Linked DNA regions of Homo sapiens. The protein of the gene in region 1 purifies or fractionates together with the protein of each later gene. This does not show direct contact. Each region holds a gene or a part of one and is shown on either strand. Other genes may lie near its edges.

The links. Proteins that work in one complex are often made in the same cells at the same time.
Region 2: the proteins of PABIR3 (region 1) and PIGR purify together in Homo sapiens (affinity purification with mass spectrometry; one large-scale study listed by BioGRID and IntAct). This does not show direct contact.

The regions. Positions count from the first base shown.
Region 1 is NC_000023.11:134,826,637-134,831,991, forward strand, and holds part of PABIR3 (PABIR family member 1), read left to right. Parts: intron 1-2,589; coding exon 2,590-2,646; intron 2,647-5,355.
Region 2 is NC_000001.11:206,932,107-206,936,964, forward strand, and holds part of PIGR (polymeric immunoglobulin receptor precursor), read right to left. Parts: intron 3,713-4,858; coding exon 3,380-3,712; intron 2,641-3,379; coding exon 2,314-2,640; intron 1,061-2,313; coding exon 880-1,060; intron 472-879; coding exon 350-471; intron 1-349.

The sequences.
Region 1 (5,355 bases):
AGCCATATTTTGACAATAGCGAATTATTGTGGTGAAGTAGTTGTTGCTAATTGTCAAATAAAATTTATATGTAGTAAATTTTCAGTTACCCACATACCAATTTTCTATTGTTATTTTTACAACCTTGGCTGTTTCTTCTACTTTCTAGCAAATGATTTGAAAAAAAACAAACTGATTTTAATACTTTAAGCAACATATAATTAGTGAGGTGATATATTCCTTAAGCAGCAATATGATACATTTTAAAACCCAACAAAAATTCAGACTATCTGCTTCATAGAAACATTTATTTATCCAACACATACTTTATTTTATGTATGTATTTATTTATTTATTTATTTGGAGATGGTGTCTTGCTCTGTTCCCCAGGCTGGAGTGCAGTGGCACGATCTCAGCTCACTGTAAGCTCTGCCTCCCAGGTTCAAGTGATTCTTCTGCCTCAGCCTCCTGAGTAGCTGGGGTTACAGGCACCCGCCACCATGCCTGGCTAATTTTTGTATTTTTAGGAGAGACAGGGTTTCACTATGTTGGCCAGGCTGGTCTCAAACTCCTGACCTCAAGTGATCCACCCGCCTCCGCCTCCCCCTCCCGAAGTGCTGGGATTACAGGCATGAGCCACCACACATGGCCCAACACATACTTTTTGAACACTCATCTTCCCTCCACTCACTAACTCACTCCTCTTACTGCCTTTCATGGCCACACTCCATCTATTGGTTTCTACTGGGAACCTTAGCAACCTCTTTTTCAACCTTCTGGTCATTTCTCCAATCTACCTCCTTCTCTTCACTCTCCCTTTTTCATTTAGACCCTCACCATCTGTGACCTGGCCTGTGACCCTGCGTCTAGTCCCTCTTCCATCCACCATCAATGTGTTCTGCATGATGTTGCTAGGGTTACCTTTTTAAAGCAGATATGATCTTGTTTAAACAGCTTTGAGGTTTAAGAACTCAGAGGAATCTATGCTCTGGGTTTCCTATTGTGCTCAAAGGCTAAAGTCCAAAAACTACAATCTGGTTTTAGCCTAATTTCCCTAAATTTGTTTCCTGTTGTACCCTCGCAGGTACTAAGTTTCAGCCACCCTGAACCTTTCTGTTCCCTGAACATTCCTCTCTGCCTGAGTGTTTCCTCTCACTCCTTGAAATGTCCTCCCTCCTCTTCTCTATCTAATGAGTTGCTACTCCTCTATGAAGACTTCCTCAAGACCCACACAGAGTTCTCTGTCCTTTGAACTCTGTCCTTTGAACCCAAATCGTAACTCTGTTCTGCCATTTGGCTGTGACCTAGTTTCTGCTAACTAGACTTAGACTTTGACTTGCTCAAGGACAGGAAAATGTCTTATTTATCTTTCGATCTTCAGAGTCTAGCTCAGTGCTCTCTCTCTCTCTCTCTCTCTCTCTCTCTCTCTCTCTATATATATATATATATATATATGTATATTTGTAAAGGTGGGTGTTTGCCATCTTGCTTAGGCTGGTCTTGAACTCCTGGCCTCAAGTGATCCTCTCAAAGTGCCGGAATAATAGGCATGAGCCTCCCGTGCCTGGCCTCCAGGTCTTTTATTTTTCTTAAAAATCCCAAGTAGCTGGGATCAGAGGCACATGCCACCACGCATGGCTAATTTTTGTATTTTTAGTAGAGATGGGGTTTCACCATGTTGGCCAGGCTGGTCTTGAACTCCTGGCCTCAAGTGATCTGCCTGCCTTGGCCTCCCAAAGTGCTGGGAATACAGGCATGAGCTACCGCGCCCGGCCTCATTCAATATTTTGAATGTACAACTCAATGTGCTCTTAAGATAGAATTTGAAACTAAGATATGGTAAACACATTATCTGGCATTTTAAGAAATAACCACGGTACAGAAAGAGTTTACAGATGAATTCTGAAGGTAATTTTCAAGCCTCATTTTCACACTTAGCTTTAAATCCCTCCATTCTTTCATTCCCCTCTTGTGTGGGTCCTCATAAGCTTTGAGAAAAGACTGAAAAGGAAAAAGTAGCCCCGAAAAAGAGAAAGGACCTAGACAAGAAGTATCTTAGCAACCAAGAGTAAAATGTGCTAAATGACTTGAAAGTGATTACCTTAGAGTCATTTCATATTATGAAAGTTTGGTTTCCCAGCTAGATTCCAGGATATTTGATGTAGTTATTCTGTTTATGATTTTTGGGCAGTATGCTTGGCAAGCTAGCTACTGATTCAATGACTGTTTCAGCTTTTTGTTCTGGGTAATACCTCTACCTAAGCTTTAATGATGGGCTAAAACTGGCAAGAAAAATGAGGCAATTTTAAGATCTAGTGCCTTAGGAAAGAAAAGGTAGAGACAAACAAAATCCTCTATTGATGTTCTGCTCTGTATTTATTATGATAACAGTTATTTTGTTCTGTTTTGGAAAGTGTTGATTTTTGATTAGTATAATTTTCAGTCAAGATCCAGTTGGATCTTTTTTTAACTTTGAACCTAACTGATACTGTTGCTGGCATGCATAAGACACTAAATAAATATTTTAGGTAATTCAACATTGACTTAATGTTGAGATGTAATTAATCACAAACATTAAAGCAAGCTTGACTTCTATATTTTAAATTTCAGTTGTTGCCACCTCCTCCCTTTCATGGTTCCATCAGCCGCCTTCATCAAATCAAACAGGTAAGAAGACTTTCCAAACTGACAGCTGTTCATTTAAAAAAGTAAATTTTATTTTTCTTTGTGAAAATACCTATGTTTCAGTAATTCTAAGTGAGGTCACGTGTAATATTAAGTTTTTATTTCTAGGAATGATTTCTTCAAAAAAAAAACAAAACTAAGAAGCACTTTTTTTGGCTTATTAGCTATTTTAATTAATTAATAATTTCTAGAAATACTGCATACTCTTATACCTTGAGTCTAGCTTCTTTCTTCCAGGGATCTGAAAGTGGAATGCTACACATAAAAATTAATTTTCAGCTTCATAATAACTGTAGTTATTATTTTTTTAACCCTCAGATGAGTTTTTTTGACAGATAAAATGGCCTTCATGCTATTGTTTTGTTCTTAGTGATCTGAGTTCAGGGACACATTGTACCTCACTGGTTTATATTTTGTGCCCATGTGCACGCATGCACGTCTCTGTGTTTGTGTGTTTGTGTTTGTGTATGTGGTTGGGAGGGTGTATGTGGGTGGGTGGGTGTGCACTCATGTGCACATGCATGCTTAATAGCACAAGCATAATACAGAATTCAACCTTTTAATTATCCAAGGATTAGCCACAGAACTCAAAAGATCAAATCACCACTACCCCACAGGTGGTATTTTTTTCTTTGACCCAGCTACAAGCAGACATTTTTTCCCCCAAGAGAGGCTTAACTTATTATTCACTTAGTACTAACAGGTACTTTACATTTGTGGTCTCATTTTATCTTACAACAACTTTATAAGGTCAGAAACTAAAAAGGGGAGAAATTTAGCAATTTACCCAATCTCCAGAGTTGGTGAATGTCAGAGCCAAGATTTGGCCCCAGATTACTGGATTATTTTCCAGCTCCCCTTTCCCTGTTTCAGTGCACAAAGCCCATAATACCATCTTGTAATCCTAGTTATTAGTCCTCCAACTCTTGCTTCTTTTCCCTCTCTCCCTTTCACCCCTGTGGCATGGCTTCCCTAAGGTCAGCTTATCCACTAGCAAGAAAGTATGGTAAAAATGGTTTTTTTCCTTTTTTTTTTTTTTTTTTTTTTTTTGAGACAGAGTTTCGCTCTGTTGCCCAGACTGGAGTGCAGTGGCTCCATCTTGGTTCACTGCAACCTCCACCTCCCAGGTTCAAGCGATTCTCCTGCCTAAGCCTCCCAAGTAGCTGGGATTACAGACGCCTGCCACCACGCCCGGCTAATTTTTGTATTTTTAGTAGAGACGGGGTTTCATCATGTTGTCCAGGCTGGTCTTGAACTCCTGACCTCAGGTGATCTGCCTACCTCGGCCTCCCAAATTGCAGGGATTACAGGCGTGAGCCACCGTGCCAGGCTGTTTTTTTTACTTTTTAGTGGGTAAAACTTGCTTTTACTCCTGTCTTTGTATGTAGCTATTTTAGAAATTCTTAAGGAATGAAACAAGTTCAAAGGAGTAAAGTGACCTCGTGTTTATCTGTGCAATATGTTTCTTTGCTTCTCCTAAATTAAACCAAATATTTGAAAATGGGTTATGTGTTGCTATTTGCTGGTGAAGCTTGATATAAATCCTAATTTACACTGGTTAGGAATATAAGTTTAATGCAGTTTATTTCCATAGTAACATAATATGTATTATAAATATTTAAAAATGAAATATAAGTAGAAAATGAATGAGATGGGAAAAGAGAAAAACATTAATTTTCAATCTGGATACTGATTGAATGGAAAATTAAGACTTATTTTCAGCAGTTTAATGGTCTGATAGATATCTTAAGTTGCATATTTCTTTTTTTTTTTTCTTTGTTTTTGAGATGGAGTCTCACTCTGTCACCCAGGCGGGAGTGCAGTGGTGCTGTCTCAGCTCACTACAACCTCCACCTCCTGGGTTCAAGGGATTCTCCTGCCTCAGCCTCCCAAGTAGCTGAGATCACAGGTGCGTGCCACCACACCCGGCTAATTTTTTTGTATTTTTAGTAGAGATAGGGTTTCACCATGTTGGTCAGGCTGGTTTCGAACTCCTGACCTCAAGTGATCTGCTCACCTCAGCCTCCCAAAGTGCTGGGATTACAGGGGTGAGCCACTGTGCCTGGCATAAGTTGCATATTTCTTTACATGCATTCTTTGACTGACTTCTTTGTCCCTATTAAACTTAACCTTTTAAGTGCAAAACAGAAATGTCTGGTTCTCTCCCCATTACCTTCTGAACTTTCACTTTAACAACATTAATAAGGGCATTGATTTTTCAAAATGGGGGGAATAATATTGGCTATCTCATAGAATCGTTTTGAGGATGAAAAGAATTACAACTGACCCTTCAACAACCTGGGTTTTTAAAAAGTAATTAATTTAATTTTTACAGGTGCCATGGGGTACATGAGATACTTTGATATAGGTATGCAACATGTAATAATCACATCAGGGTAAATGGAGTATCCATCCCTTCAAGCATTTATCCTTTGTGTTACAAACAATTCAATTATCCTTTTAGTTATTTTTAAATGTATAATTAAATTATTATTGACTATAGTCACCCTGTTGTGCTAGCAAATACTGAGTCTTATTTGTTCTTTCTAACTATATTTTTGTACCCATTAACCATCCCACTTCCTCGCCACCCCTCATTTACCCTTCCCAGCCTCTGGTAACCATCCTTCTAATCTCTATCTCCATGAGTTCAAGTGTTTTAATTTTTACCTCCCACAAATAAGCAAGAAC
Region 2 (4,858 bases), on another chromosome or scaffold:
GAAACTGAGGCATGGCATAAGGATGGCTCAATGTCACACAGCTCATTAGTTATCCAATTAGTCCAAGCCCAGGGTCTCCTGAAACCCAATCTCCTCTTCCTGGCAGCCCTGTCTCTGAACCTAGATCCTGGGTAATTGGAGATGATTTTCCAGTGTTAGTATTTGGACAGCAGCTCTGAATTTCAGTTTCGAGTATGTGTGGGTTTATCTTTCCCCATCCTGCTTTCTCGGGATCCTTTGTTTTAGCTCATGAAAAAGAAGAGACACAGCAGCTTCCTCTATGGGTGGATGATTCAGGACTGAGGGCTCGGGTTGGAGGTGGGAGGCAGGGAGTATCCCAGGGACTCACCGACGTTCTTCCTGTGCCGGGCTCTGGCCACCCCCACAGCCACGGCTCCCACTGCCAGCACCAGGCCCAGGGGCACCAGGGTGGAGACCAGCGCTCTGGAGCTTCCACCTTGTTCCTCAGAGCTGGAAGAAGGCTTAAGTTAGTTCATCCCTGGAAGGGAGATCTGGGGGCCCGACGATGTGCTGGCAAGGTTGGCTTAGTCCTTTTTCCTCCCAGGTTTATCCACCCCACCCTGCTGATGCAGCTCCCTAGCTCTGTTCTTCTAAGAAGCCTTCCCAGACTGGCAAAGGCACGCACTGGGCCTTGTTGCATCCTAGGCCTGGAAGATTGAACTGAATTGTAAACACCTCCCCAGCCATGGGAGAAGGGCAGAGGGTACCATAGGACCCTCCCACATATAAGCAGAGGTAGTAAGGGCTGCCCCAGTGCTCAAGAGACAGATGGGCTTTCCTCCTTGGACCTGGTGGCCCAGCCTCAGGTGCTCGGCTCTGGGGTGTTCTCCGAGTGGGGAGCCTTGAATCCTTCCTTACCTGCCGGAATCCACAGATGCTCTGCTCCCATCGGCTTGATCTCTTGTATCTGCCACCGCCTTTTCCTCTGCAAAAAGCCTGGGATCCTGAATGGCTTTGTTCTCAATCTCCCGAAAACCAGAGTCTAGCACCTTCTCATCAGGAGCAGCGTCTGCCTTCGCTAGGCTGACATCGCGGGACCCTGCAGCAGGGAAGAGTGGGCCTGGGTTGTGATTTTTCTCTATGCTCTTACTCCTCGAGGTGAAGGAGTCTGGGGGAGACTTCATGAGGAATCACAGGGTCAGGGTTCGATCTCAAGGCTGTTGGGGTAGGACCCAGGATGACATTAGAAACAGCTGTGATGGCCTTCTTCAGCTGTCACAGATGATCTCTGCCCCATTACTACCAAAAGTATAGTGGGGACCTTCAAGGCTTCGTGTCATAGACCAGCTGTGCATAAAGGCTGACCCATCACTTATGCCCGGGAGATTTTCAAGGCTCTGAGACGCTGCCCCAGGCTTCCTGACTGCCCAGCTGGGTATGATAGTGCTGCCCCCTGGAGGTAGCCTGGCGATGGGCCCCTCAGTGAGTCCCATCCGCAGGGTCCAGACCCAATAGGATTTCTTGAGGGACTACAAATACCCTTATTAGGGCTAAAACATTTCATGTGAAATTTTAAAAGGGGACTTGAAATGCAAATTTACTAGATGTTTCCTAATTTTCCTGATCAGACCTTGTAAATGAAGGTATCTGGCCCTCTTTCGAGGGCGAGCTTTGGCAGGGGGAAGGGGGATGAACATATTGCATATGACAGTGATGTATGCATATTATTCTTCTATACAGAGAAGAATATTTCCAGATATAGAAGAGACTTCAATCTGGGTTGAAGTGGCAACTATGGGACTTGTCTTTTTTTTTTTTTTGAAATGGAATCTAGCTCTGTTGCCTAGGCTAGAGTGTGGTGGCACGATCTCAGTTCACTGCAACCCCTGCCTCTTGGGTTCAAGCAATTCTCATGCCTCAGCCACCCAAATAGCTGGGATTACACCACCATGCCCAGCTAATTTTTGTATTTTTAGTAGAGACGAGTTTTCTCCATGTCAGCCAGGCTGGTGTTGAACTCCTGGCCTCAAGTGATCTGCCTACCTCGGCCTCCCAAAGTGCTGGGATTACAGGTGTGAGCCACCACATTCAGCTGGGAGTTGTCTTAATGCCGAGGTTAAATAGCAAACCCACTATTTTTACTTAGTTGGTATGTTTATTTGAGATGTCCCTTTTGAAGGGCTCAACGAGGCTATATAGGACCTAAATGTCCCCTCCCTTCCCACTCTCCACTTTCAGCCTCTTACAGCCAAACATAGGGGCCAGCACTGATTGAGAAGCTCTCAGGCAGGGGCCTTCAGGAAGTCCTGCCTCTGGGTCTGAGGGGTGCAGGCCCTGTCCTTGGAGACTCACCCGCTGCCTTCCTCTCTTCAACTGCCACATAGACGGCTGCAGTCTCTCCATAGAAGTGGCCCTGCTTCACTCCACACCAGTACCAGCCCTCATCAGCCCTGGTCACCAGGTTCAGGGTCAGGGAGACAAGCCGGCTGTTCTCGTCACAGTTCACGAAGGCCTTGCTGGGGCCTTCGTCTTGGCTGGGCAGGGCCTGGCAGCCCGTGTTATTCCACTTGCACCAGTATTTCTCGTACGAGGAGAATTTGCATGGAAAGTGACAGGGGACCTTGAGAGTCTCTCCCAGCACAGCCGTGACATTCCCTGGTACCTTGAGGTTTGGTTCTCCTGGAGGAGGGAGGGAGGTAGAAATAAACACAGAAGTTGGTACTTGGAGATGCTGCAGGGAAGTGACTCTGGTGGGAATCTTTGTCCACATGTCATATACATATATATATATATTTTTGTTTTTGTTTTTGAGACAAGGTCTCTCTCTGTCACCCAGGCTGGAGGGTAGTGGTGCGATCATAGCTCACTGCAGCCTCCATCTCCTGGGCTCAAGCAATCTTCCTGTCTTGGCCTCCCAAGGTGCTGAGATTACAGGCATGCACCACCATGTTCAGTCTACATATCCTCTTTGGATAGCATTAGAAATAAGTATGTTATTCTGACTACAGAAGAAATGTAATTGTGTGCCTAGGTAATAATTATTATTGATGAGCACCATGATCAATCCAGAGTCTACCATAGACCATAGATCTTCACACATGGACTTCAGTTTGCTTTCCTCACTCTTCCTTCTCTTCTAGACTCAATACAAAGAGGTATCTGCAATCCTTGACTTCAGCTGATGCCTGCACACTGCGAAAGAAGCCCATGTTCTTGGTAGTAGGAGGTACCATGTATGGTAATTCAGAGTGTAAGGTGCGTGTTATAGGCATGAAAATGTGACCTCTGGATAGGTGGGCTCCCTCCTGAGGTCTGGCCCATCAGGGTGGAGGCGGGTGAAAAAGGAGGAAGAGTGGTTGGGGATGCTGCTGCTGGCTGGAGAGGTTTTAGAGCTTTCTCCCTCCCTGTCAACTCCTACCTTCGATAATCTTGATCTCCACGGTGGTCCTCCAGAGAGTATCGCCGTTGGTCAGACACCAGTAGAAGCCGGCGTCCCGGCTGGTGAGCTGGTTGAGGATGACAGTGAAGGTGCCGTTGCCTGGCTCCTCCAGCAGGGAGAGGCGGCCCTCGTACTGGGCCTTAACCCACCCCTCGCTGTCCACCAGCAGGGGGCAGCGGCCATTCTGGGCCCCTTCCCAGAGACACCAGTACTTGATGCTTTTGCTTTCCTTACGGTTGTAGGGGCAGAGCACGGCCACAGAGCCTCCTGCCACCCCCTTCACCACAGTGGGGCTGCGGGGAATCGTGGACTCTGGAAGCACAGACAGAGATGGGATGGGAGGATGGCCACGCAGGAAGAGCCTTGCGTGGCCTGAGAAGCCTTCTTCCCGGGGTCTCAGCCAGGATGGGGAGTGAAGTTTACACGCATCACCTTACCCTCTTCAGAAAATGAAAAGGAGCTTTCCTAATGTCACAGAGCCTGCAGCTGGAGCCATCAGGGCCAGACTCCAAGGGCTTGGAGTCTCCCCATCAGCCTGCACATGTTGTTCTTTTCCCCCATCTTATTCTGAGCAGAGAATGGAAGGAGTTGAAGGAGAGGATATCAGCTCTTCTTTGGCTTCTTACAAAGTCTCCCTCTGTGTAGGTTTTTGTCTATTTAGTACACTAACAAGTGTATTCCACAAAAGTGGCCCAATGGATTATGCCCAAATCAAGAAAATATATTTAGGATGGTATGATGTAAACTATAAAGTATGTAGCAAAGGTGAGCTTAATTGTTGGGGCCCCAAGGGGCATCTCAAAGACGATAGCCATTCTCCAGGCAGCTAAAGCTGAGATCCAGAGAGAAGCAGGTGACCAAAGATGCAGGGGATTCTGGTGAAAACCCAGAGCTGGATGTGGACATGGCATGCAGAGAATATAAGCCCCTTTAAAAAAAAAAAGTCACAAGCACAGATACTTGGAACTGCAAGTACTGGTTTGCTGCTTCTCACGAGGGCAACTCTATGCAGGGTGCTCTGGGATGAGAAGGAGCTGGGATTTAATTCTTTCACCATGCTGATGGCTCACTGGAGTAGGGCTGAGTGGGCCAGATGGTGCTGAAATTCACAAATAACCCTACGAAATGTGACAGTGAAACATTTAGAGGCTGGGGCACTCCTGGGAACGCATTGAGACCAAGATAAGCCAATCCTTTTTCCATCTGAATGTGAGGGATGAGGCACCCATCTTGTTCAGGGGCCAGGGGAGGGGACAGAGGACCCCTGCAGAGCCTGCCACAGCCCTGAAACACAGTCTATAAGTCCTGCCTCAATCAAGAGCTTTACTCACCTCTTGCTTGTTAAGCAGGGACAGCCATCAAAATGACTTTGATAACAGAAGAGTAATTAGGAGCTGCCATCAGGCAGAGGTTGCTTTTTCTTGCTGTCCTGTGCAGCAGCCCACGCAGCCTCCAGTT